Linked DNA regions of Homo sapiens: regions 1 and 2 are each linked to region 3. Evidence: fine-mapped expression QTL. A gene starts in region 3. Each other region holds a variant in brackets. All regions are shown on one strand. Distances are from middle to middle.

Region 1 (8,178 bases), 39 kb after region 3:
TGAGAAGAGAGTTATGTGAAGAGTACTTGCTGTTCCACAAAGCCTGGACCATGTTCCTAAGAGTCTCTCTCATGATAGACTCGCCTTTCCGGTGGACCAGACCCGACCGCATTCTCAGCGTCAGGTGGCTGCGCTGTGTGGTATTGATGCTGATCCCCGGGCAGGGTGTTAAGACGCAGGCCTGGACCCGTCTTTTCCACTGAAGTCTTTGTCAGGAGAGGAGCGGTTGGGCTAAGAACAGCTAGAGTTTGGGAGGACAGTCGGCATCCCATGGGTGTCCATATTGTTCTCATCTCCCCAAAGGAAAAACCGGGATCTAAAGTCCGGCAGAGAGGAGATGCAGTGTGGCCGATGCTCTCAGTGGCAAAACTATTAGAGGATGGAGGACACTGTGACAGTTTCTGGAGATAACATGAAAGTATTTTAAGCTGTGACTGCAGGGAACAGTCAGAATGTGAGGCCCCCACGCAGGTCCCACTCACTCTCTGAAAGGAGCATTTAGAACCACATTCATCTCAGCATGGGATTGTGGGATCGGATTTGTACCTGGATTCTGAAGTCTGGTATTTCATAAGACTATGTCTGTCTCCTTCATTTTTCTCAAAAAATAAAAAATGGAGAAAGCTAAGATTGCTGGCAAGTGAGATGGCATCTGCTGAGACAGACGGATGCCCAGGTTTTGGTCCTGCAGACATAGATGTCCTCGTGAATTAGATCATCTGTTTATGTCATGCATATTTCTACAGAAGGTGCACCCAAGGCCCAAAAGGAAGACACCTGTATTCATATTAACAGCTGTTAAAGGGTAGCCTGCTTTGCATTTCAGGGCCCAGGGATCCAACAACAGATCAGATGCCTCCCTGCTGTGTGACTGCTGGGACTTTGGCATTGCTATTCAATATGACACAGGCCCACATGTACTGGAGTAATTAGTACTATCTTGAGTATCACTTTATCAGCTGGAATAAAAACAGCCCAACACCCCAAAGTTTGAGTACTTAGGAAATAGAATCCTGACCCACATACTTGACCAGATGAAAGCCGTCCCGAGGTTTGTGGTCAATGCCTCCAATCGGCGCATGGCAGTCAATGCAGATGCTCTGTTCCATCGGCCTGCCACACTAGGGTGAAGACAGGGCACTAGAACCACTTCTGGAGCAGTACCATTTTATGCACAAATGCCATCATGCAAATGAACACCTCCTTATCACCGGCAGACGTGAGCACCCTCAGATTGTCCCAGTGTGTGCTTGTTTCGGGTGGGTGGAGAACCCATGGGAACAGGGTAGGTACTCACTAATGTTGCACGTGGGCAAACTGGAACTGTTTTTTAAATAAGTGAGACAATTTAAGCTTTATTCCCAGAGTGACACTTTATAGACAAATATATAAAATTCAACCTTCCTTTCTTGTATTCAGCACTTTTTCCATCCCTCCATCTATCACACTAGCCTGTGGCACTTCATGATCTAATACCAAGAATACTAGAAGAGCTTCCAAACTGACTTCCTTATATTCATTTGGACTTTTTCATATATCAATTTTTATGAGACAGAGCCTCGCTCTGTCCTCCAGGCTGGAGTGCAGTGGCACCATCACGGCTCACTACAGCCTTGACCTCCCCAGGCTCAAGCAATCCTCCTACCTTAGCCTCCCAAGTAGCTGGGACCACACGCATGCACGCATGCACGCATGCACCACCATGCCCTGCTGATGCTTTGTGTTTTTTTGTAGAGACGGGGTTTCAACATGTTGCCCGGGCCAGTCTCAAACTCCTGGGATCTAGCAATCCACCTGCCTCAGCCTCCTGAAGTGCTGGGATTACAGGTGTGACCTACCACACCTGGCTTGGACTTTTTTATTTAAAAAAATCTAATCACATAATCTACTTCCAAAGGCTTATTTTTCAAAATCAGATATTGTGCCACAATATACTGAGAGTCACGGCTGATAACACACCAAACCAGTTACAGAATTTCAGAGCTGGGAGCATTCTTGGATAGACTCTATTTCAGCGTCCTCATTTCATGGACAAGGAAGTGATTGAAGCTCAGAAAAATGAAGTGTATGTAACAGTTTTTCTCCCTCCGTATCTCTTATATACATTATTAAATGACGTGTATCAGGCTGGGCACAGTGGCTCATAATCCCAACACTTTGGGAGGCCGAGGCGGGAGGATCGCTTGAGCCCAGGAGTTCAATGTTTATAGTGAGCTATGATCATGTCACTCTGCACTCCAGCCTGGGTAAGAGAGCCAGACATATCTCAACCAAGTAAGTAATACTAATAACTAACTACCACGTGTCAGCTCAACCCACCAGCCTCTTGCTCAGCAAGTACAGATACTGTGTATGGAGGGCTCTAGGCTAGATGCTTGGGAATCCAGAGAGGAATAATCAACAGTTCTTCCCCCATGGCGCACAGCCTACACGTGGCTTTTTCCTTTGGCATCTGGACCACACCTCCTCTGAGGGCTAATAATGCAGCCTGTGGTCCAGGCAACACCTTGCCATTCTATCAAGACAAGGCTCACTGACCCCATGCTGCAGTGGCTAGAAAGAATGGCTAGCAGCAGTTCCCAACCAGTAGCAATTTTCTTTCCTAGGGGACCTTTGTCAATGTCTGGTTTTAGCTGTCACACTGGGAGGAGTGGGTGCTCCTGGCATCCAGGGACTCGAGGTCAGGCATACTGCCAGACAGCCTGCAGTGCACAGGACAGCCCACGCCGCAGAGCCACGTCCACAGTGCTGAGTCTGAGAAGCCCTGGGCTAGAAACCCTTAGCGCCATTGGCATTGCCCTGCTCAGAGCACCCTGGGCAGTCCTCGGTGAGCCTGTGCTCTCCTGGAAGGCCGAGAGCCTCACTCTCCTGACCCACGATCCCCCTCCTCCAACCCAGGAGTGCACGCCACCCCTCAAACCCTATCTTAAATACCAAGACTCACCTCTCCCACGGAGCAAGGATGGCCGTTGGGACAAGCTGTGAAGAGAACAGGACACACATTGGCTAATGAGGTTTCACCCAATGACCCACATTGAAAAGGGAAAGCTAACTCTCTACTCTCTGGCCCTGACCACAATATGAGAATGACTGTCCAGAGCATCCCACGCTAATTTGTTAAGTTACATGACACCTGCCTGAAGCTTAATAAATGTATGTTGTCAGTGAAAAA[T/C]GTCTGAGTCTAATTTTATTAATTTTATCAAGTAAAGAGCAATTAGAATATAGGCCCATACCAGGGGTACTTTTGGAGGCAAGGTGGACAGGATTCTAGACCTTTCTATTTTCCTTGATTTTTTTTTTTTTGTCATGAGCATATTTTATAACAACTTTAAAAACTAGTTTTAAAATATTTACTCAGGCAACAGCAAAATTTACATGTCATGGGTTATATGAGTCAGTCTCCCGGTTCTATATTTCATATATTTCAGAAGAGCTTTGTGTCAAAAACTTTGTTTTGTGGTGGGCCTTTGAATGCGTCTCTGATGTGGTTCCCAGTCCCTCCCTTCTCCCAAAATGGCATATTCCAGAGAACAGAAGTGCATCACAGAGGGCCTTTTCCACACGACAAAGAAATGAAATGGTTTGGATCATCTAGCCGGCGGAGTGCCAGCTCCTTCAAGCCATTCGTCTTCTGCAGACGCCACCGGTAGAATGCAGGTGGTTTTGGACCCTGAGGCACAAACCACGTGGACCCCAAGTCGAACCCAATGCTTCATAGCATCTGGACACCCTTTGAAGCTCAAAGGAGTGTGGGGTCATCTAGACCCCAACACTTACTGTACCAGTGGACTCGCTCCAGACCCTTCCACCTCCGAGCTTGAGCCAGCAAGTCTTCAGGCATGGTTGGAAGAAAAGCATGCTGAAAAACAAGAAGACAGAGACAGCTCTAGATAAGTGAGCTTGTCACCTGGGTGCTGCTGCTCAGCAGGAGGCCTAGAGGAAGAAAGGGAACTCTGCTTTCCTTCTGCTGGACTTCTCAAGCTGTCTGTGAAGAAAACAGAACAGCTTCCTGTGAAATAACAAAGGGCAAGGCAAGTCTGTCACTATCTTGTGTGCTCAAGAATCAGGTGACACAAAGGCAGAGAACTGAGGAGATAAAGATGCTCAAGAGTTCCCACAGCTGCAGCTCGGTCTCTACAGTGACAAGCTCTGGGGGGTGTTCCAGTGAAGGCCGATGGAATTGTGGCCTACTCTTACCGCCATGGTGGCTGGGGAGAAGGCCAGATTCTTTAGGGGCTCCAAGAGTTCATTCTGTCCACACAGAAGGACGGCTGCAGCATGAATGGCCATTTCTGTCACCGTTCCATCAAGGTTGCTGTCACTAGGCCCCGCCCTCAACAATGGCACAGAATTGTCCACGAGCGATGTTGCAAAACGGCTGATATCAGGAGGTGAAAGGATCTTGCATTCGCCAATGAATTTGCTCACAGCTTCACATTGCTGACAGGAAAAAAACTTAACATTAAGATGTATCAAAGAATATTGTGTGAATTGCTCTTAGACATACACTGACACCAAATACACATCAAATATCAAGGTAAATATGGAGAAATCACCACCATTTGAGGGGGAAATTTTTCAGAGAAGAGAATTGTGCATATACAAACACAGCATCCACATACGTAAGCATTAATTTTGATATTCTATTCTGTTAAACATTATCTTATGTTCTTGGCTTTAGTTTTCATTATAATTCTACAAGCTTTGGGTTAAACAGCTTGGTTATGTGTTCCTCCACATAACAAGGTTGAGAACCTCTATCCTAGATAAAAAAATTATGGTATGATTTGTGTTGATAACTTTCATTCTATTCAATAAAATCCCTCCAAATACTGAGACTTTGAACACAGCCCTGCAGGCGGTTACTCACCTCTGGCGTGGGGTGGAGGCTTGCATTGTGGGATCTGTACAAAATAGCCACCTCTCTAAACAGTGTTAACAGGAAGTAGGCTGACTGCTGGCTTTGGGGGGTCTTGCAGGCCTGCAAAATCAAGGGTATCAAGTAAGAATTTAAAAGCTCAACACATCTTTTTTTTTTGAGATGGAGTCTTGCTCTGTCACCCAGGCTGGAGTGCAGTGGCATGATCTCGGCTCACTGCAACCTCTGCCTCTCGGGTTCAAGCGATTCTAACTCAGCCTCCCGAGTAGCTGGGACTACAGGCACACGCAACCATGTCCGGCTAATTCTTTTTTTTTTTCTTTTAGTAGACACGGGGTTTCACCATGTTTGCCAGGCTGGTCTCAAACTCCTGACCTTGTGATCTGCATGCCTCGGCCTCCCAAAGTGCTAGGATTATAGGATAGACGCCCCCGCACCGCTGCCTGCCAGATCTACCTAAGGGCCAGAGGCCCACGAAGTTTGCATGTGAAAAGAAACTTTTCACATGCCTCAGCCCTCAACCCACCAAAAGGGAAGGAGCCTTTTCCAGGCCTGGACACCTGGGGTCATGCCCCACATGGGCAGTCTTCTGGCGAGCAACTTTTGGGCTACAAAGTTCCTGAAATACTCTCAGATTAAACTCAACGCATATTTAGCAGCCAGCTTAATGACAGAAGCAACGGAATCACCATCTGTTCTTCTGACTCCTTCACTGGTCTTAGAAACTTCTGAGCAGAAAGAGGATTTTCCATTTCCTCTTTTCCTGGCACAGGGACTCAAAAAGGAAGCAAGACCAGACCAATTTAAAGGTTAGATTCTAAAAACATCTTTATATTTTTTAACTTCCCACACTACACCAACATATGTATTTTTATTAAACACACATGCATATCTGAATTATGAATACATCTAGGTATGAATTTTGCTATTAATAGTTGTGTCAGCATCTTTCTTAGACTGTTTTCCAGCAGGGTCTCAAAGGAAGTAATGGGCATAAATCAAAAGGCGCTGCTGATGGACTTGGCAGATCAGCAAGACACAGCAAATCTGTCAACCCAGCTCAACTGTCATAGCTGTCCTGTTCCAGCCACTGGTTCACGCACACTAGCCAGGTGCGCCCTGGAGGCTGTGGGCACGTGACTTCCAATACAGTGTCACGTGATGGGCTGCATCAGTGGTCCATCACCCTGCATCATTTGACATAAACCAGGGAACATGCAGGCTCCAAGGGATGCCACCTGGTATCAGAGAGAAGCCACGGGCCCATCCTACCTTCAGAGCAGTCTTAATGCCCAGTGGCTTGCACTCGAGGACAGCTTTGGCCACAGCATCACGGAGAGCCTTGTATTCATCGCCGTACACCAGGTACCTATCCATCTGGCCTGGGTGGTCCTGCCGCAGCCCCTGGAATACAGAGGTTAGTTGGGGGTGAACAATGGGAGGAATGTCTTGCAAAGAACCGTCTGAACGGGTACAGGAACCAGGTGGTTGATCATTCGAGGTTTAAAGGCAGCCAAGCTGGGATTCCCTGACCTGGCCTGAGGCAGGACAGTCTGGTGCCCTCTTCGCAGGGAGCTTCCTCCTCAGTAGACGAAGAGGTGCAAGTGCAGGGAATGCCTGCCGACGGCAGCGCTACCTGGGGAGGTGCTTGCTTCCTCCGTTTGCGGCGCACCGCACCACACCTGAGGCCGGGTGGCTCAAGTCATGTCAACTCTAAACCCCAGGTGGTAGTCAAACAGTGCCGGGGTTCTTAGTACCATTTTTGTATCCCCTGGACAATAAGAATTTGTTAATTTCTGGGTATCTGGAAAGGACCACTGAGAGGCCTTGAAGCCTCTTTTTTTTTTTTTTTTTTTTGAGACGGAGTCTCGCTCTATCGCCCAGGCGCTGGAGTGCAGTGGTGCAATCTCGGCTCACTGCAACCTCTGCCTCCCGGGTTCAAGTGATTCTCCTGCCTCAGCCTCCCGACTAGCTGGGATTACAAGCACCCACCATCATGTCCAGCTAATTTTTTTTTTCTTTGAAGTAGAGACAAGGTTTCACCATGTTGGCCAGGCTGGTCTTGACAAACTCCTGACCACAAGTGATCCGCCTGCCTCGGCCTCCCAAAGTGCTGGAATTACAGGTGAGAGCCACTGTGCCCAGCCTGGCCTTGAAGCCTCTTCTGCAATTCTTCTATTCCTAGTTCTTGCTCTTGCCTGTCTCTGCCTGCCAGAGGTAAAAAGGTCGCACCTTGCAAGCTGAACTACGTTTAATTCGCTGAAAGCAAAGGCCACAAGAATGTTCTACTTTCCTTGAGTGAAATTCAATTAGAAGTGATGCCTAATTAAAGAAGCTCTGAGGTGAGTGCCCTCACCTTGGCCCTACAGCAGGCAGTGTAAACATGATCACAAGCTGGGGCAAATCAGCTGAAGCACAGAGACAAAGGACCAGACAGACAAGCGGCAGGTTTCCTTCCTGGCTCTGGGGATGCTAAGGGCAGGCGGAACGCGGAAGCAGTGGCACCATCCCTGGGTGTGAGGGTGAGGTGTGGGGGTGTGAGGGTGAGGTGTGGGGGTATGAGGGTATGTGGTGGGGAAGGTGTGAGGGGGTGGGGTGTGGGGGGGGTAGGGTGTGAGGGTAGGGGGGTGTGTGGGTTTGGGGTGTATGGGGCTGTGGGGGTGCATGTTTGTGTGCTGCCCGGCCCCGCTTCTCACCTGCTGCTTGACAACGTCCTTGGGAAACACCCACTGGTGCGGGCGGCCGGGCTTGGAGAGGCCCTGCACGAACTCCATCCCCCGCTGGCTGCTGAGCTTCCGCACCAGGTACACCCGGTGCCAGTCGTTCTCCACCCGGATACAGAACTGCTTGACTTGCTGCAGGTAGCACTGCTTCTCCTTGGCCATCTCTGAGAGGCCAACGAGAAAGCGGGTGAGTGGCTGGTGACTTAGGGCATTTATTGTAGGACACAAGGCCAACCAGAGGGCATCGGACCTACCCACAGGCATTCACAGAAACACATCCAGGGGAGAGGGGATGTAGAAAAGCCCAGTAGTAGTCTATTCGAAGAACTAGTTTCCCATACTTCCTGAATTTCTAAATAACGGAGTCTTTAAACCCAAAGGAAAGCAAGGCAGAGAAGACTTGCCTGGGCCTCCCTCAGGCTCCGAGAGGAAATCTGCAGCTCTGTCGAGGCAGAGGCGGATCCGGGCCACCTCTTGCAGGTATTCAACCGAGGCCTCGTTGGCAGGCTCTCGGCCCCGGCTTGCTGGAGAATATGCCTTAAGGAAACGACCTTCCTCTTCTAGGTGGTTCAGTTC
Region 2 (8,178 bases), 110 kb after region 3:
AACAAATGATCAGTCTAAACATTAAACCTTACATCACTTTCAAACTGAAACTCATGAACTCAAGTGGGTGAAAACTGCACAGAGACGGGAAAGAAGGAATTGCCGATCTCTGCACCACACAGACAGAGCTCAGAGACATGGGGGTGAGTGGGGAAAGTCGGAGGCAGAAAGGTCAAAGCTGGAAGACAGGTAAAACTGATCCATGGGAGGCTGGGCGTGGTGGTTTAAGCCTGTAATCCCAGCACTTTGGAGGCCAAGGCAGGCGGATCATGAGGTCATGAGATCGAGACCATCCTGGCTAACACGGTGAAACCCCATCTCTACTAAAAATACAAAAATTAGCCAGGCGTGGTGGCAGGCGTCTGTAGTCCCAGCTACTTGGGAGGTTGAGACAGGAGAATGGCGTGAACCCAGGAGGCGGAGCTTGCAGTAAGCCGAGATCACGCCACTGCACTCCAGCCTGGGTGACAGAGTGAGACCCCGTCTTAAAAAACAAAAAACAAAAAACAAAAAAAAAACTGATCCATGGGAGAAGTCACAACAGTGGCTTTCTTTGGGACGGAGGAGCCGGGTCATCCTGCCATCAGACCTGGGACACGACATGCAGCGGGGGGCAGATGTGTGGCGCTATGGCCTTTGTTACTGTATTCAAGCTACAATGTCAAGAAGGTGGGAAAGACCATGTTTGGACATGTATTTTTTGGGAGGAAAATGGTCCCCGTAGTTCTCTGCAAACAACAGAATCAAGAAAAAAGAAAAGTCGTCTTCTCCGCGTGGCGTTGCCTGACCCCCAGCCCCTGCGCCAGCTCTCTGGTTTCCCCATGACCAGCTGATGGCCACACATTAACTCCCTGCCTCCCTCCCAGGAAAGCCCAAGGTGGCAGAAGGGCAGACCCTGGCCCACTGACACCCCCCACACCCAGAACAGAACCCAGCATCAAGCAGGTGCACAAGAAATGTCCACTGCTGAAACCACCGCTCCATCTCATCCCAGCACCCGGGAATCAGTCTGTTTCCTTTCCAAATTGAGGCTGCTTGAAATTCCGCACCTATCCCGGGTGTGATACCTTGTGTGTTGACTCCACTTACCACCAGAGATAGAAGTCTAATCATTCTGCAGACAATCTCGGCAGATAAGGCTGGCAGCTCGTAAAACTTAAGTAGCTTTGTGCTGCTGCAGATGGCTTCATGCAGTTTCAGACACACAGTCAGGTAGGATGGTGACAAGGCCTCCTCGGGAATCCTGCCCCGCAAAGAGTTAAGAGAAATCCCGGCAAGGATTTAGGAGAAGCCAGAAAATGGTTACCATTGATGACTAGCTCCTTCCTTCAAAATAACTACCAACAGGGCATTTGTTTGACCTTATCTAGGTTAACGTCTGGAAAATCTCAGTCAGTCCTGAACTTGTGACTAAGATAAAAAGGAAGCAAAGTCCTCTTGTTTTGTCTCTGTAGTCTCAACTGTTCTAACCAAAGCAAGTCCAAACACTCCTCAGTGCGTTCCAAGATGTGAAAAAAGGCAAGGGATGTTTATTACTAGACATTAAAATATGACATAAATTTGAAAAAATATTCAGAAAGAAACAGAAAGGAGGGAGGAAGAGAAAGAAATAGTAGAAGAGCGTGCAGCCCGTGTGGAATTGGCTCCAGCTCTGCCGGGCCTGGGTTTTGTGTTTTCTGAGGGACACATGGACAGAGCAGGGACTTAGGAGGAGCCTTAGGAGGGACTCGGTAGGGACTCGGGAGGAGCCTTAGGAGGGACTCAGGAGGGGACTTAGGAGGAGGCTTAGGAGGGACTCAGAAGGAGGCTTAGGAGGGACTCAGGAGGAGCCTTGGGAGGGACTCAGGAGGGGACTCAGGAGAGACTTAAGAGGACACTTAGGAGGAGCTTAAGAGGAGAGTTGATGGAGGGGACTGGGAAGGCGGTGTAAGAAAGGACTCCCTGGGCTGAGAATGTGACACACAGTGGTGGGGAGATAGGGAGCTTGTGGGGGGGATCCTCAAGTCACAGGTGCTGGATCAACATCGGCAGAGACGTGAACAAAGGAGGTGAACGAAGACTGGAAGTGCCCGAGCCGCTCAGAGAACAGCTCAGACAACACCCATCCCATCGCTCACTGGCACATTTCAGTGGTTCTGCATTCTGTCTGCTGACCCCTCAGGGTATCAGAGGTCACAAATTTGCAGGAGCAAATGATTTTGGATAATTATATAAAGCTACCTTTGATTTTTATCTTAAACTGACTAAGTATTAAAAAAATGCAGAACGCCCACCAGGCATATGCAGTATCATGACTATTTACAAGTAAGGGAAAAATGTATAGGAAAAAAGATCAGGGGGAGATAAACCCAAATCTTAGCAGCTGATATCTATTATTTCCCTTTAAAAAAAAAAAAAAAAAAAAAACAGACGGCCAGGCATGGTGGCTCACGCCTGTAATCCCAGCACTTTGGGAGGCCCAGACAGGCGGATCACCTGAGGTCAGAAGTTCAAGACCAGCCTGGCCAACATGGTGAAACCCCATCTCTACTAAAAATACAAAAATTAGCCAGGCGTGGTGGCATGCGCCTGTAATCCCAGCTACTCAGGAGGCTGAGGAAGGAGAATCACTTGAACCTGGGAAGCAGAGGTTGCAGTGAGCCAAGATGGTGCCATTGCACTCCAGCTTGGGCAACAAGAGTGAGACTCCATCTCAAAAAAACAAACAAACAAACAAACCAACACACAAAAATTAGCTGGGCGTGGTGGGGTGCGCCTGTAATCCCAGCTACTCGGGAGGCTGAGACAGGAGAATCACTTGAACCAGGAGATAGAAGTTGTAGTGAGCTAAGATTGCGTCACTGCACTCCAGCCTGGGCAACAGAGTAAGACTCTGACTCAAAAAAAAAAAAAAAAAAACAGACGACAATATTAATAACCTGAGAAGAGAAGTGGGCCACATATTAATTTATGACCTTGCTGTTACAACAGCACATGTGGGTCACGGCCAATTATAGGGGTCAGAGGAAGCCCCCGGGGGCCGCATGTGAGGGAGAGACTGCATCGTGCTTTCCACTTACTTGTCCCGGTAAGTGTCCAGGAGTCGCAACAGCATTTCTAAAATGTTCTGAACGTTCTGAACATCCTGAACATCCTAAGGCAGAGAAAAAAAGAAAAACAGGACAAAAGATTGAATCACAATGCCACTGTCATTGCTAAAACAGAGCTGAAAAAAATCCAACATCAATATGGTATACATTGTTTTCTTCCTACAAACAAATTTTAAGGTGCTCACATACTAATCTTACCTCTTTTACAGATAAAACTCAGGATTTAAACTTATACCATTTTCTCCACCAAAAAATGTGAAAGGAAGAATGGCAGCTACGAAGTGCATCACATGAGACGCCTTCTTTTTTTTTTTTTTTTTGAGATGGAGTCTC[G/A]CTCTGTCACCCAGGCTGGAGTGCAGCGGCGTGATCTCGGCTCACTGCAAGCTCCGCCTCCCGGGTTCACACCATTCTCCTGCCTCAGCCTCCTGAGTAGCTGGGACTACAGGTACCCACCACCACGCCCAGCTAATTTTTTTGTATTTTTAGTAGAGACGGGGTTTCACTGTGTTAGCCAGGATGGTCTCGATCTCCTGACCTCGTGATCTGCCCGCCTCGGCCTCCCAAAGTGCTGGGATTCAGGCGTGAGCCACCGCACCCAGCCCACTGTCTGTTTTTTAGGAATAAGAATCCTGAGCTTTCCATGTTTAGTTATCTAGTCTGCTTTTGCTAAGCCAGGACTCCAGAGCCGACTTCAGACACAAACCTGCGTATTCAAGACTTGCTCAAGTCCCGGAAGCCGGTAGTAAATCCCTGAAAGACAGTCCAGGATATGAGCAGGAAAACGACCCAGGTGCTCAATGAAGTTTTCCATATACATAACCAGGTGACTCAGAGGTAGCAGACTAAACCAGGACCGGAAGAGAGGCTCGTCTATGCTCAGCAAATGCTGCTTCTCTCTCATAAACTGAAGTAGGGAACTCCTGCATAAGAGAAATAGGGACGGAGAAAAGAGACGCAGTGAGATCAGTGAGGGAAAATGGAGGAAACCAATGCTGGAGGGACAGAAACAGTCCCGAATTCAAAAATGATTTAAATACTACTTGAGGGCAGGCGTGGTGGCTCACACCTGAATCCCAATACTTGGGAGGCTGACTCGGGAGGATCACTTGAGCCCAGGAGCTTGAAACCAGCCTGGGGAACCTAGTGAGGCCCTGTCTCTACTTTAAAAAATAAAATAAAGGCTATGTGGAAAACAAAAATATGCAGTGAATCAAATGAAAAGTACAGAACAACCTACTGAGAATTAACTTAATGGCCGGGCGTGGTGGCTCACGCCTGAATCCCAGCACTTTGGGAGGCTGAGGCAGGTGGATCAGTTGAGGTTAGAAGTTTGCAACCAGCCTGGCCAACACGGTGAAACTGCGTCTCTACTAAAAATACAAAAATCAGCCAGGCATGGTGGCACATGCCTGTAATCCTGTAATCCCAGCTACTCAGGAGGCTGAGGCAGAAGAATCACTTGAGCCCCGGCGGCAGAGATTGCAGTGAGCCGAGATCACGCCACTGCACTCCAGCCTGGGCAACAGAGTGAGACTCTGTCTCAAAAAAAAAAAAGGAAAGAAAAAAGGAGAATTAACTTAATATAGAATTCAGAATACGGAATAAGAATTCACTGCTGGCCATTCTGGGCATGCTCCTATGGGGTAGCCCTGTTCTACAAGGAGCAGTAATATTAAAAAATAGTAATAAAATCAGGCCGGGCGCAGTGGCTCACGTCTGTAATCCCAGCACTTTGGGAGGCCGAGGCAGGCAGATCACCTGAGGTTGGGAGTTCAAGACCAGCCTGACCAACATGGAGAAATCCCGTCTCTACTAAAAATCCTAAATTAGCCAGGCGTGGTGGCGCACACCTGTAATCCCAGCTACTTGGGAGGCTGAGGCAGGAGAATCACTTGAACCCAGGAGGCAGAGGTTGCGGTGAGCCAAGATCGTGCCATTGTACTCCAGCATAGGCAATGAGACCAAAACTGTCTCAAAAAAAAAAAAAGTTCACTGCTGGGTGCAGTGGCTCATGTCTGTAATCCCCACAACTTGGGAGGCCAAAGCAGGAGGATGGATAGCTTGAGGCCAGCAGTTTGAGACCAACCTGGGCAACATAGCAAGATTCCATCTCTACAAATAAATAAATAAATACACAAAAAGAATTCATTGAGATGGATGAATCTTGACATTATGCTCAGTGAAATAAATCAGACACAAAAGGACAAATCCTGTGTGATTCCACTCACGTGAGGTCCCCAGAGAAGTCAAAATCCTAGAGACAGAGAGGAGAACAGTGGTTACCAGGAGGAGGGGGAGTGTGGAGGTCGTGTTTCATGGGGATGGAGTTTCAGCTGGGGAAGCTGAGTTCGGGAGGTGGATGGTGCTGACGGCTACACAGCAGTGTGAATGTGCTTGGTGCCAGGGAACTGTGCCTTGAAAAGGAGTTAACATGGTAAACTGGAGATTATGTATATTTTACAATAAAAGGGATATACCCCAATAATTAAGCCTCTTAATTATTATTATTATTATTTATTTATTTATTTATTTGTGTTGGAGTCTCACTCTGTTGCCTTGGCTGGAGTGCAGTGGTGTGATCTCGGCTCACTGCAAGCTCTGCCTACCAGGCTCACGCCATTCTCCTGCCTCAGCCTCCCCAGTAGCTGTGACTACAGGCGCCTGCCACCACGCCCGGCTCATTTTTTGTATTTTTAGTAGAGATGGGGTTTCACTGTGTTAGCCAGGCTTGTCTCGATCTCCTGACCTTGTGATCCACCTGCCTTGGCCTCCCAAAGTGCTGGGATTACAGGTGTGAGCCACTGCACCCAGCCAAGCCTCTTAATTATTATTAACGAGTGTCCAGGATCAAACAGCCCAAGTGGGCTCAGCGAAGGCCCTTAAATAATGCTGATTCTGGAACACAGTACTGGAGACCCAAAATGTTGACAATGGAAAAGAAATAAAGCAAGGCTCCCTAGAAGTAACAGAAGTTATGAAAAACATATCAATAAAGGTTCACTGCATACTAAAGGCCACTTTTACCTGAACGATTGGATCTTTAGGAACAATGCTACTGCAGACTTTTCAAGATATTTAAAGATAAGTACATAAAAATAGCAATAATAATAAAAGGTACTCTATATTTCTACTATATCTAGCCTTTCTAGGTAAATATGGACCATCCATGGGTCTGACTATATTGACTGTTTTCTCTCTTGATCATCTAGTGGCCTCTTCTGTTATCAGGGGCTGAGTTAATAGTTTAGATGAACTACAGCTTTGTTGTAGCTTTAATTAGAATTGGTTCCCAACGGCTGGCCAGGCACAGTGGGTGGCTCACGCCTGTAATCCCAGCACTTTGGAAGGCTGAGGCGGGCAGATCACTTGAGGCCAGGAGTTCAAGACCAGCCTGGCCAACATGGCAAAACCCATCTCCACTAAAAATACAAAAATTAGCCACATGTGATGTGTGATGACATGCACCTGTAGTCCCAGCTACTTGGGAGGCTGAGGCACAAGAATCACTTGAACCTGGGAGGCGAAGGTTGCAGTGACCAGAGATCGCGCCACTGTACTCCAGCCTGGGCGACAGAGCAGGACTGTCTCAAAAAAAAAAAAAAAAGAAAAGAAAAGAAAAAAGAAAAGGAATAGAATTGGTTTCCAAAGGCTTTTACGCCTTCTAAAGGCAAGACCGTAACACTGCCTTTAGCAGAAGTTGGGATCCAGGGGCACAGAGCAACTGCCTCATTTTTTCTGCTGTCCCCAGTCTTTGGCATTTGGCAGGCTCTGAGCATCATGCTTTATGAGGGGGCGTCTCTTTCAGTTCTCCAGCCCCTTTCCCAATTGGATGGTCACTGTCTTGTTCTCACTGCAAGGCCCAGAGTGCTGCAGTCATTACCTCTGTTCTCCTACCCTACCTTCAGACCTTAGCAGATTCTGTGGCCTGAGCCTCCAGGCTAGGGGAAGGAGGAATTTCCAGAGCTCTCTCATCAATAGGACTTACTGATGTATTAACTGCCTGCCTCTCCAGCTAGAATGCAAGCTCCACAAGGCCAGGAGCAGCTGTCTGTTTTGAGCAGTGCTGTACACGCTGTGCCTTGAGTAGTACTTCCTGGCACAAGGAAGGTGCTCTTCAAGTATTCATCCAGTGAATGAATGAATACATTCTAGCACATTAATAAGAGAAAGACCATTTCAAGGCCAAAATAAATTAATCTATTTTGCTTAGAAGGGTTAATCTGTGGTCATTATGACTGTTCTATTAAATAACCCAGTATTCAGTATTTCAGAGAGATTATACTTAAAGAGAAAGTTTGTGGTTACCTGTCAAGAATCTGAAAATAAAGATGCTTTTATTTCAACTTCTAGGGAATCTGGACTTCTACCACTGCAGCCTTGACCTCCCTGGCTCAAGCGATCCTCTCATGTAAGCCTCCCAAGTAGCTGGGACTGCAGGTACACCCCACCATGCCTAACTATTTTTTTTGTTTGTTTTTTTGTAGAAACTGGGTTTTACTATGTGCCCAGACTGGTCTTGAACTCCTGGCCTCAAACAATCCTCCTGCCTGGGCCTCCCAAAGTACTGGGATTATAGGCATGAGCCACCAAGCCCAGCTGCTTTTATTATTTTTAAACTGACACATAATAATTGTACATATTTATGGGGAACAGTGTTATATTTCTATATATGTATACAATACATAATGTATACAAATGCATACAGAGAATACATTTTATGCACTGTATATACATATAAATATGTCTACAATGTATACTATGTACAAAGTATACAGTCTGTAATCTGTACAAATATATGGATACAATATATATGCATACAGTGTATAATGTGTACAAATCAGGGTAATTAGCATATCTATCTCAAACATTTATTTCTTTGTGTTGGAAACATTCAAACTCCACTCTTCCAGCTATTTGAAAAACGTAATAAATTGTAAATTACAGTCGTTCCATACTGCTCTAGGACCCTAGAACTTACTCGTCCTATCTAGCCATACTTTTGTATCCACTAGCCAACCTTTGGCTAGCCCTCTCCCCATCCTTCCTCGCCTCTCGTAACTACTATTCTACTCTCTCCTTCTAGAAGATC
Region 3 (8,178 bases):
ATGCTAAGGACAGTGTTCTTCACGGTGGGAAAAGCAGGCCAGTGGTTCTCCAGCCCAGCTCTGCTTCAGAATCACAGGAAAGCTTATTTTAAAAAGCAGATTCTTATGCTATACTCTGGGAGAGTTTTTCCCCCAGTAAGTGGGGTAGGGCTCTGGAATCTGTTTTTTTTTTTTTTTTTTTGACAGAGTCCTGCTCTGTTGCTCAGGCTGGAGTGCACTGACGCGATCTCGGCTCACTGCAAGCTCCGCCTCCCAGGTTCACGCCATTCTCCTGCCTCAGCCTCCCGAGTAGCTGGGACTACAGGTGCCCGCCACCATGCCCGGCTGATTTTTTTTGTATTTTTAGTAGACACAGGGTTTCACCGTGTTAGCCAGGATGGTCTCGATCGCCTGACCTCGTGATCCAGCCGCCTCAGCCTCCCAAAGTGCTGGGATTACAGGCATGAACCACTGCGCCCGGCCTGTTTTTTTTCCTAACAGGTTTACTGAGATACAATTAACATACCATAAAGTTCACTTGTTTAAAACATATAATGCGATGGTTTTGGTATTTACAGAGTTGTGCAATATCACTACAATCTAACTTTAGAACATTTTCCTTAACCCCTAAATAAACCTCATCCTCATCAGCAGTCACTTCCCATCCATCCCACCCCAACTCCAAGGCCCAAGGATCCACTTTCTGTCTCTGTGGATGTGCCTACGGAATCTGTTTCTCAACACACTTCTGGGTGATTCTGCTCCTGCAGGTCCACGGTCGGGCATTCAGGAACCAGTGGACCAGACTGTTCCAAGATCCTTTCCTAGTCTAAGCTTTCATAGCCGGAACAATGAATACCGACGAAGTAGCAGGTGCTTTGCTTGGTGCTGGGGTTGTAAAAGAAATATGGTACACCCTACTCTTGAGAACCTACAGTCAGTGGGAAAAATGGAATCATAAATGACTAACTTTAATACAATGTGAGAAGCGCTCTAACAGCATGTGCATTCAAAAGAGGCCCAGGATGCAGATGAGGTGATTAATTTGCAGCCAGGAGAAGTTGGAGGGGGAAGGGAATGCTGTGTTAACTGCTTTCCATGCATTTCATGTACTGCTCATCACAATTCTGTGAGCTGGATATTAATACCACTATCATCCTCAAGTCAGAAAAAAGGAGACAGAGGCCTAGAGGGCAAAGTGGGGAGTGGCAGAGTTGGGTGTGAGCATGAGTAGTCAGGACCCTAAGACTGTGTCCCCACTCCCTATGCTAGCCTACACAATGGCCAGGGGACCTCTTAGAGTAGGGGCTGCTGAATATCCCAATCTTAGCACACAGTAGGCACTCAGTACATTTTTGCTTGATTTGGACTGAAAAGGGCCTCCCAAGTAAAGCACAAAGCCATGGAAGCAGGAAGACGTTTGTCACCTTCGGGAGTCAGCAGAGGAGCAATGCGAGTGACGCCAAGAGGCTTCCGGAGCTGTTGACTCTTATGTGAATCATGAGCCCACTGTCCATTCACACACGTATCTCTTGAAGGAAGAGTCCAGCGTCTTCCTCATGCTATCCATGGTGGGCAAAGCAACATGGTTTCTACCATCATGGAGTTTATATTCCAGTAGGGAAGACAGGCCAGTTCCATCCCAGCAAGACAAGAGGAAGCAGAGGGTTGCTACGGTCTAAATGCTGGTGTCCTCCCCAAATTCCTATGTTGAAATTATAACCCATAGGTGATGGTATTACGAGGTGGGGCCTCTAGGGAGGTGAGTGGATCACCATGTGAGAACACGGTTAAGAAGCTGGCCCTGTGCAACCTGAAAGAGCGCCGTCACCACAACCTGATTGCGCTGGCACCCTGATCTTGAGCCTCCAGCCTCCAGAACTGTGAGAAATAAATTCCTGCTGTGGGTAGGCCACCCAGTCTAAGGTATTCTATTACAGCAGCCCAAACGGACTAAGACATGGTGCTGAGGGACAAGTCCTCGTCTTGTGGGATGAGAGGGAGCTTAGTGGAGGACGTCATGTCTAAACTGAGCCCAAAGAGATGAGTAGTAGTTAGCCAGATGGAAACCCTTCCAGAAGAAACATTACTGCAAAGGTCAGGCCGCCAAATACAGCGTAGCAAACACGTGAGGGACTCACAGTGGGCTGTAGGAGGTGGGAAGAACTGAGAATAGTGGTGAGGGCTGAGCCTCCAGCGTCATATTAAATTACGCAGGGGACAGGTCATGACGGGCCTTGAAGCCATGCCAACCAGAGTGAACTTTATTCACCATGAGGTCATGAGAAGGGCACTTCAATGTTCTAAGAGGACTTGTGGGCTGGGTGTGGTGGTTCCCACCTGTAATCTCAGCACTTGGGGAGGCCAAGGTAGGAGGATCCCTTGAGCCCAGGAGCTGGAGACCACCCTGGGCAACATAGTGAGATCCTGTCTCTACAAAAAATAAAAAAATAAGCCGGGTGTAGTGGCTCACACCTGTGGTCCTAGCTACTCAGGCTAAGGTGGGAGGATCACTTGAGTCCAGGAGGTTGAGATCAGATCTTGACAGTGAGCCAAGATTATGCCACTGCACTTCAGCCTGGGCACAGAGTGGGGGAAGGGGAAAGGAAGGAAAGAGAGACAGAGAGAGGAAGGAAGGGAGGAAGGAAGGAAGGAAGGAAGGGAGGGAGGGAGGGAGGGAGGGGACTTGTTGCTTTTGAGGAAAATACTTGCTTTTTAGGAAAATTGGTCTGCTGGCAGTATGGAAAAGAAACCACTGAGGAGGAACATTTGAGCCAGGGCACCCATGAAAATGCTGCTCAGGAACCCACAGGAGTGATGGTGGCACAGCCAGGGAAGGAGCAGAGGGGAAACAGACAAGGGGACAGATTCCAGCGACATTTAAGAGGCAGAATAAAAGCGAGCTAGTGTGCAACTGGACGCGAGAGGAACGGAGGGGCCCAGGAGGATGCAGATCTCCAGCTTGGGCAACTGGGAGCGTGGTGGACAGGTCACTGAGATGAAGAACCCAAGATAACAATCAGACTTGAAGATAAAGCTCATGAGCTGATTCTTAATAGTCACAGAATTCCCTTAATTTTTGCCTTTTTTTCCCTTCCAAGACTCCCCAGACTTTTTTTTTTTTTTTTTTTTTTTGAGATGGAGTTTCGCTCTTGTTGCCGAGGCTGGAGTGCAATGGCGTGATGTTGGCTCACCGCAACCTCCGCCTCCCGGGTTCAAGCGATTCTCCCGCCTCAGCCTTCCGAGTAGCTGGGATTACAGGTATATGCCACCACACCCGTCTAATTTTGTATTTTTAGTAGAGACCGGGTTTCTCCATGTTGGTCAGGCTGGTCTCGAACTCCCGACCTCAGGTGATTCCCCCGCCTCAGCCTCCCAAAGTGCTGGGATTGCAGGCGTGAGCCACCGCGCCCGGCCAACTCCCCAGACTATTAATGACATCCTACAAAACGAGAAGCCGGGTTCTACGCTTGCACTGCTCCCTGTCCCGGAGACCGCACGCCCGAGCCCACCGAGGGGCCCGCCTCGAGCTCGGCGTCCTCCCAGGTTACCTCGAGCTCAGGGAAGCTGAGCACCACCAGGGAAGCACAAGCGCGGACACTGTCCCCTTTCACGAAGGACACGTCAACGCCCCCGACCCTCTGCAGACCCGAGAAGGCGGGGTCTCGCTGCCACGCCTCGGTGTCCCGGTCTACGACGTGGGCCTTCAGCCGAGCTTGCTCCCTAGGAGGACAGAAGCGTCAAACTTGGTCGGGGTCACACCTCAGACTCTGCCTCCTCCACCCGCGCGGCTGCAGCGGACAGAGCGCCTCTGCCGGGTCTTCTCCCGCTTCAAGGGAAAGCAAGGGACATACCGCCGAGGCCACAGTCCCTAGGAGCCCAGGCGGCGGAGACCCGCGCAAGCGCAGGCCAGACAAACTGGCCGGAAGCGAGAACCGCGCCCACCCCGCGGACTACAATTCCTGAGATCCCTCCGCTTCCGCGCCGGAAACTGGGCTTTGCTTTGGAGTCTCGGGCGGTGGCAGCTCCGATTCCACAGCCTGAAGACTATGAGCTCGGAGGGTCCGCGAAGGGCCGCCCGGCCTCGGCCCCCGCCTCCTGCGCGTCGCCTGACAGCATTACCGTTTCCACAGTGACAGCGTTTCCTCCGGCGGCCCTCCCGCCGCCTCCAGGGCCATGGCTTCGTCCCGGGCACCCCTTCCGCACGTCACTTCCGGAAGCGACTCGCTCTGACGCCGTCCGCCCTCGTTGCCATGGAGACGCTTGCGCTTTCCCGGGCCGCACTTCCCACCCGGGTCTTCAGAAGCCCGTGGCCGCTGGGTGAGCCCCTGCGTGAACGCACACGCACGCACACGGCTTCAGGTTGCCCCGCGGCGCCGCGCGCGATATCGGCTCGGATCCCGGGAGGCCGTCCGCCCCTTTTTCAGCGGATAGCTGAGGCCAGGTAAGTGACCGCGCGAGGACCCGGGAACTCCGTGACGCCCGTCCCGCCTCTGCTGTCCCCGCCGCAAGCGCTGCGCTCTGCACGGCGAGAGGGGCCTCTTGCCCTGTTGAGAGCCGGCGGGCACGGCACTTCTGCGCTTGGAAAAGGGTGGTCCAGCACTGCAGGTCCCACTCCTTGGCCCGGTCAGCGTCCGCCTTTGCTGAACCCCGAAAGGATTCACCAGGTCCAGGACAGCCCGGCAGTTGCCTCAGGAGCACTTACTGAGCGCCTGTCGTTGACGCCCCCACCTCGATGGCAGCTCAGGGGTGCCCTCAAGCTTTTGAGGGCAGGTGTCGTGTATTTAAATTCTTCACAGTTTAGCGGGCTGGACTCACGGGGGTGCTGCAGACTTGGACGGGGTTTCATCTGGGTCGGACCTTGCTGGGCAGAAAGCTTCTCCTACCAGACAAAGTACGGCGACCTTGGGGGGTCTTGGTTCTTACCTCGTGTTCCTCATTGAATGAGTGTTGGTTCAGTGCTCTCGCTGTGCCAGGTGTTGTGCGAAGTACTGTGAGGGAGAATATGTATTTATTTGTGGGGAGCCGACTTTAAACCGGTGGTTGGGAAAGGCCTGAGAGGCGATATTGAAGACACCTGAAGGGTGAGTGAAAGAGCACGGCGGGTGAGTGGAGCAGCTTTCTCGTGCAGGTCCCGGGGTGGGAAAGAGGTTGGTGTATTTGAAGCACTGAAAGGCAGCCACTGAAGCTGAAGTGTAGCAGTTTAACCCATGGTTTTATATTCTCCTGGGAGGATTCAGAAGGGTGTATGTGTGTATGTATATATAATAGCCTGAATATAAACGTCAAGGGTGTTAGGTTTTGAAGGGAAGGTGAAGGTTAAAGAATGACGCACAGTGAGATTGCCGGCGCGCGGGCGGCTCTACAGCAACACAGGTGTATTGCAAACACCTGTCGGGGGCCAGCTTAATGCCAGAGCCCACCAGCGATTACAGGCTGGGGTACTCATAGGCCTGGGCAGGAGGGATCTAGGCAGTATGGCTTGCTGTCCGGGAAGATGTTAACGTGTTCCCAGGATGAGGTGGTTCCGGCAGAATGTGGTGTTCCTGGCGCTTTGTCCCAGCAGAATATGTTAAGAGGCAGGCTGTTTCTCATGGCTCGAACCCCCGTGGAATGTTTCACTTTGACCAAGGTCTACAAAATGGAAAGGGGCTTACAAAATGACGCAGTTTGGACTAACAAAGGGGAAAATACAGAGGATGAAATTAGACTCTAGAGGTTGAGGCTCAGGAAAGGCTTCATACAGCTTTGGGAACTGACAAGGCTTTGAAAGCAGGGTCAGTTTTCAGCGAATGAGCGTCACCCACTGCACCCTGCGCACCCTGCTCCCCTGCTGCGGTGTCTTTCCCACCAGAGTGTAGCAGGACAAGCCGCAGACAAAACCCCTCAGACACCGAGTTAAAGAAGGGCTTTATTCAGCTGGGAGCTTCGGCAAGACTCACGTCTCCAACAACCGAGCTCCCCGAGTGAGCAATTCCTGTCCCTTTTAAGGGCTCACAACTCTTCAGGGGTCTGCGTGAGAGGGTCGTGATTGATTGAGCAAGCAGGGGGTACGTGACTGGGGGCTGCATGCACCCGTAATTAGAACGGAACAGAACAGGACAGGGATTTTCACGGTGCTTTTCTATATAACGTCTGTAATCTATAGATAGCATCACTGATTAGGTCAGGCGTCGATCTTTAACTACCAGGCCCAGGGTGTGGTGCAGGCTGTCTGCTTGTGGATTTCATTTCTGCCTTTTAGTTTTTACTTCTCTCTTTGGAGGCAGAAATTGGGCGTAAAACAATATGAGGGGTGGTCTCCCTTATTCTCCCTCTCTGAGAATCTCACTCAGTAGTGGGAGTTGTCACTTTTATTTTTACTACCTATGTTTTCTTGCAAGACAGATCGATAGTGATTCATATAGTACAGTTGTGCTGAAGCATTTTGGTGAACTAAGGTAGCGATGAAGCTTTTTATCATTTGAAGAAGTATGGGTAGCAAACAAGGGAGCAGAACGCAGGTTTCTATTGCTATTGTAACTCCTAATATAAGAGTTTTAAATCTTTTTAGTGCTGGGAACCATTTTCCAAACATGGCCCCAGGACCAAATCCATGCCACACTTGCACGGGCACATGTGCCAGTTTTGTCATATTTCTAACTGTGTCTTCAACTAATTGCCCTCGATCATCTATGTGTAGACAGCAATTAGTAAGGTTAAATTTTTTACAGACCTCTCCTTCAGCTGCTAGCAAGTAGTCGAGAGCCAATCTATTTTGATAGATAGCATTTCTCATCTGAGTTTCTTGCCAGGCCAGAATAGTCAAGGCTCTGCCGGTCTTATTAGTGATTATTTCTAAGACAGCTTGTAACCGTATGATTCGGTTGAGCATGTAAATGGGGGTCGGGTATCCCTAGGAGCCATCTTGTGCCTAAGTACCAGGCCCATAATATTGTATGATTCTTTCAGGGGGCCATGTATTATCTTTTGAATTTTTTATAGCTATGCTTCTCTTTTTGCGGGAAGCACAGACAGGGAAGCCCAGGAGTTCGCCTGTCTTTATGGGCAGTAGGAAGAAAGATGGTTTAATAGTGCCAATAACATGACTACCTGCCCACTGGTCGGGTAATTTGGTGTAAACTCTATGCCTACATATCCAGTATAATCCAGTGGGGGCTGTCCAGTCCCTGTGGGACTCCGGGTGGGTTCACACAGTTTGCAACTTTGGGAATTTACTAAATGGATTTTTCTTAGTGTGGTTTGAACTCCACTAGGTGGCTGTTTTTGTAGTAGTATTATACAGTTTTTGCCTAAGCAGCTGAGTCTTCCCACAGGAAAGGTGAAGTCCTTCCCCACTCTTGCTATATACAGTATTGTCTAATGATTGAGGCTTTTAGGACCCAGAAGTTATCAGGGTGATTCTTTTGAGCCGGGAATTCATCAGGAACTGGGTCTGTAGGTACTAATTCTCGGGCTTCCCGTGGCCATTGATCTCCCATTACAGTTCGTCCACACACATAACATGAAGTGACATTGAGAGACTGGGCCACATGCTCGGCTAATTGCAAAAACAAATGTCTTGTTTTTCCTGGAATTTCTGGTGCAGGCACATTCAGTTGATCATAGAAGGTTTGAAATACTGTCTCAGGAGAGCGTTTATAAATTTCTCCTCAAACCATGATATTTACTCAAGGATCCAGTTCAGCCCCATTGATTCCTAGGGTTACATGCTCCCCTTTTTTCCAGCGAGGATCAAGGGGGTTGGTTATTACTAGTTCTAAGGGGTTACACTGACCACTGGTACAGGAAGGGCCACTTTTTCCTTTTTGAAGGTGGACAGGATCCTTTTTATTTTTTATTTAAGTAGCCTAAATGACACAAGACCAGTATTTACATTTATTTCCACACAGTTTTAATTTATGACAAATGTACTTATTTTTTGTCATATGGCCTCTTTTCTAATTAAGGGAACCACATTCTATTTTTAACTTATTACTATTAATGACAGCACAGGCATCAAACTTTAAAGTGACTTGTTTGGGCACCCCTTTTTCTTTCATTTTGGCTAACACTTTACTCGTATCGTTTATGAGTCCCTACCAGTCCTCAGTCCTTAATCTTATTTCAAAAGCTGTGGTCATGGGAGACTCAGGTCATAACACACATCAGGTTGGTCATTTCTTGGGCTACATACCTTGCATAGAATAGCATTATACA

Alleles and levels. Alleles are on the strand shown, and positions count from the first base shown. SD is a standard deviation of normalised expression in the study named. Not every link is listed here.
As copies of C replace T in region 1, the expression in gastroesophageal junction of the gene that starts at base 4,185 in region 3 goes down (moderate effect, 0.45 SD a copy in GTEx).

Evidence for each region. PIP is the estimated chance that this variant, and not a neighbour inherited with it, causes the effect. A credible set is the group of variants that fine-mapping cannot tell apart.
Region 1: its variant is the best candidate, but not a certain one, in a credible set for the expression of ENDOV in gastroesophageal junction (GTEx, PIP 0.70).
Region 2: its variant is the best candidate, but not a certain one, in a credible set for the expression of ENDOV in whole blood (TOPMed, PIP 0.78).

What each region holds. Positions count from the first base shown.
Region 1 is chr17:80,372,563-80,380,740 of GRCh38, reverse strand. RNF213 (ring finger protein 213) reads right to left here. Exons shown (of 68, transcript NM_001256071.3): 48 at 8,007-8,178; 49 at 7,576-7,766; 50 at 6,152-6,283; 51 at 4,871-4,981; 52 at 4,198-4,440; 53 at 3,778-3,859; 54 at 2,945-2,979; 55 at 1,027-1,121. The region is part of intron 1 of RNF213-AS1 (RNF213 antisense RNA 1); the gene reads left to right. Among named protein-coding and RNA genes, the nearest start is that of ENDOV, 39 kb to the left of the region's middle. RefSeq lists enhancers at 1-419, 7,774-8,178 and a silencer at 3,985-4,185. The variant T/C (reference allele first, on the strand shown) is at 3,173.
Region 2 is chr17:80,302,083-80,310,260 of GRCh38, reverse strand. It overlaps RNF213 (ring finger protein 213), which reads right to left. Exons shown (of 68, transcript NM_001256071.3): 12 at 3,793-4,009; 13 at 3,060-3,133; 14 at 1,090-1,243. Among named protein-coding and RNA genes, the nearest start is that of RNF213, 45 kb to the right of the region's middle. The variant G/A (reference allele first, on the strand shown) is at 3,423.
Region 3 is chr17:80,411,174-80,419,351 of GRCh38, reverse strand. It overlaps ENDOV (endonuclease V), which reads right to left and starts at 4,185. Exons shown (of 10, transcript NM_173627.5): 1 at 4,102-4,185; 2 at 3,531-3,702. The coding sequence starts at 4,157. RNF213-AS1 (RNF213 antisense RNA 1) reads left to right here and starts at 4,184. Exons shown (of 2, transcript NR_029376.1): 1 at 4,184-4,423. RefSeq lists an enhancer at 3,663-3,752.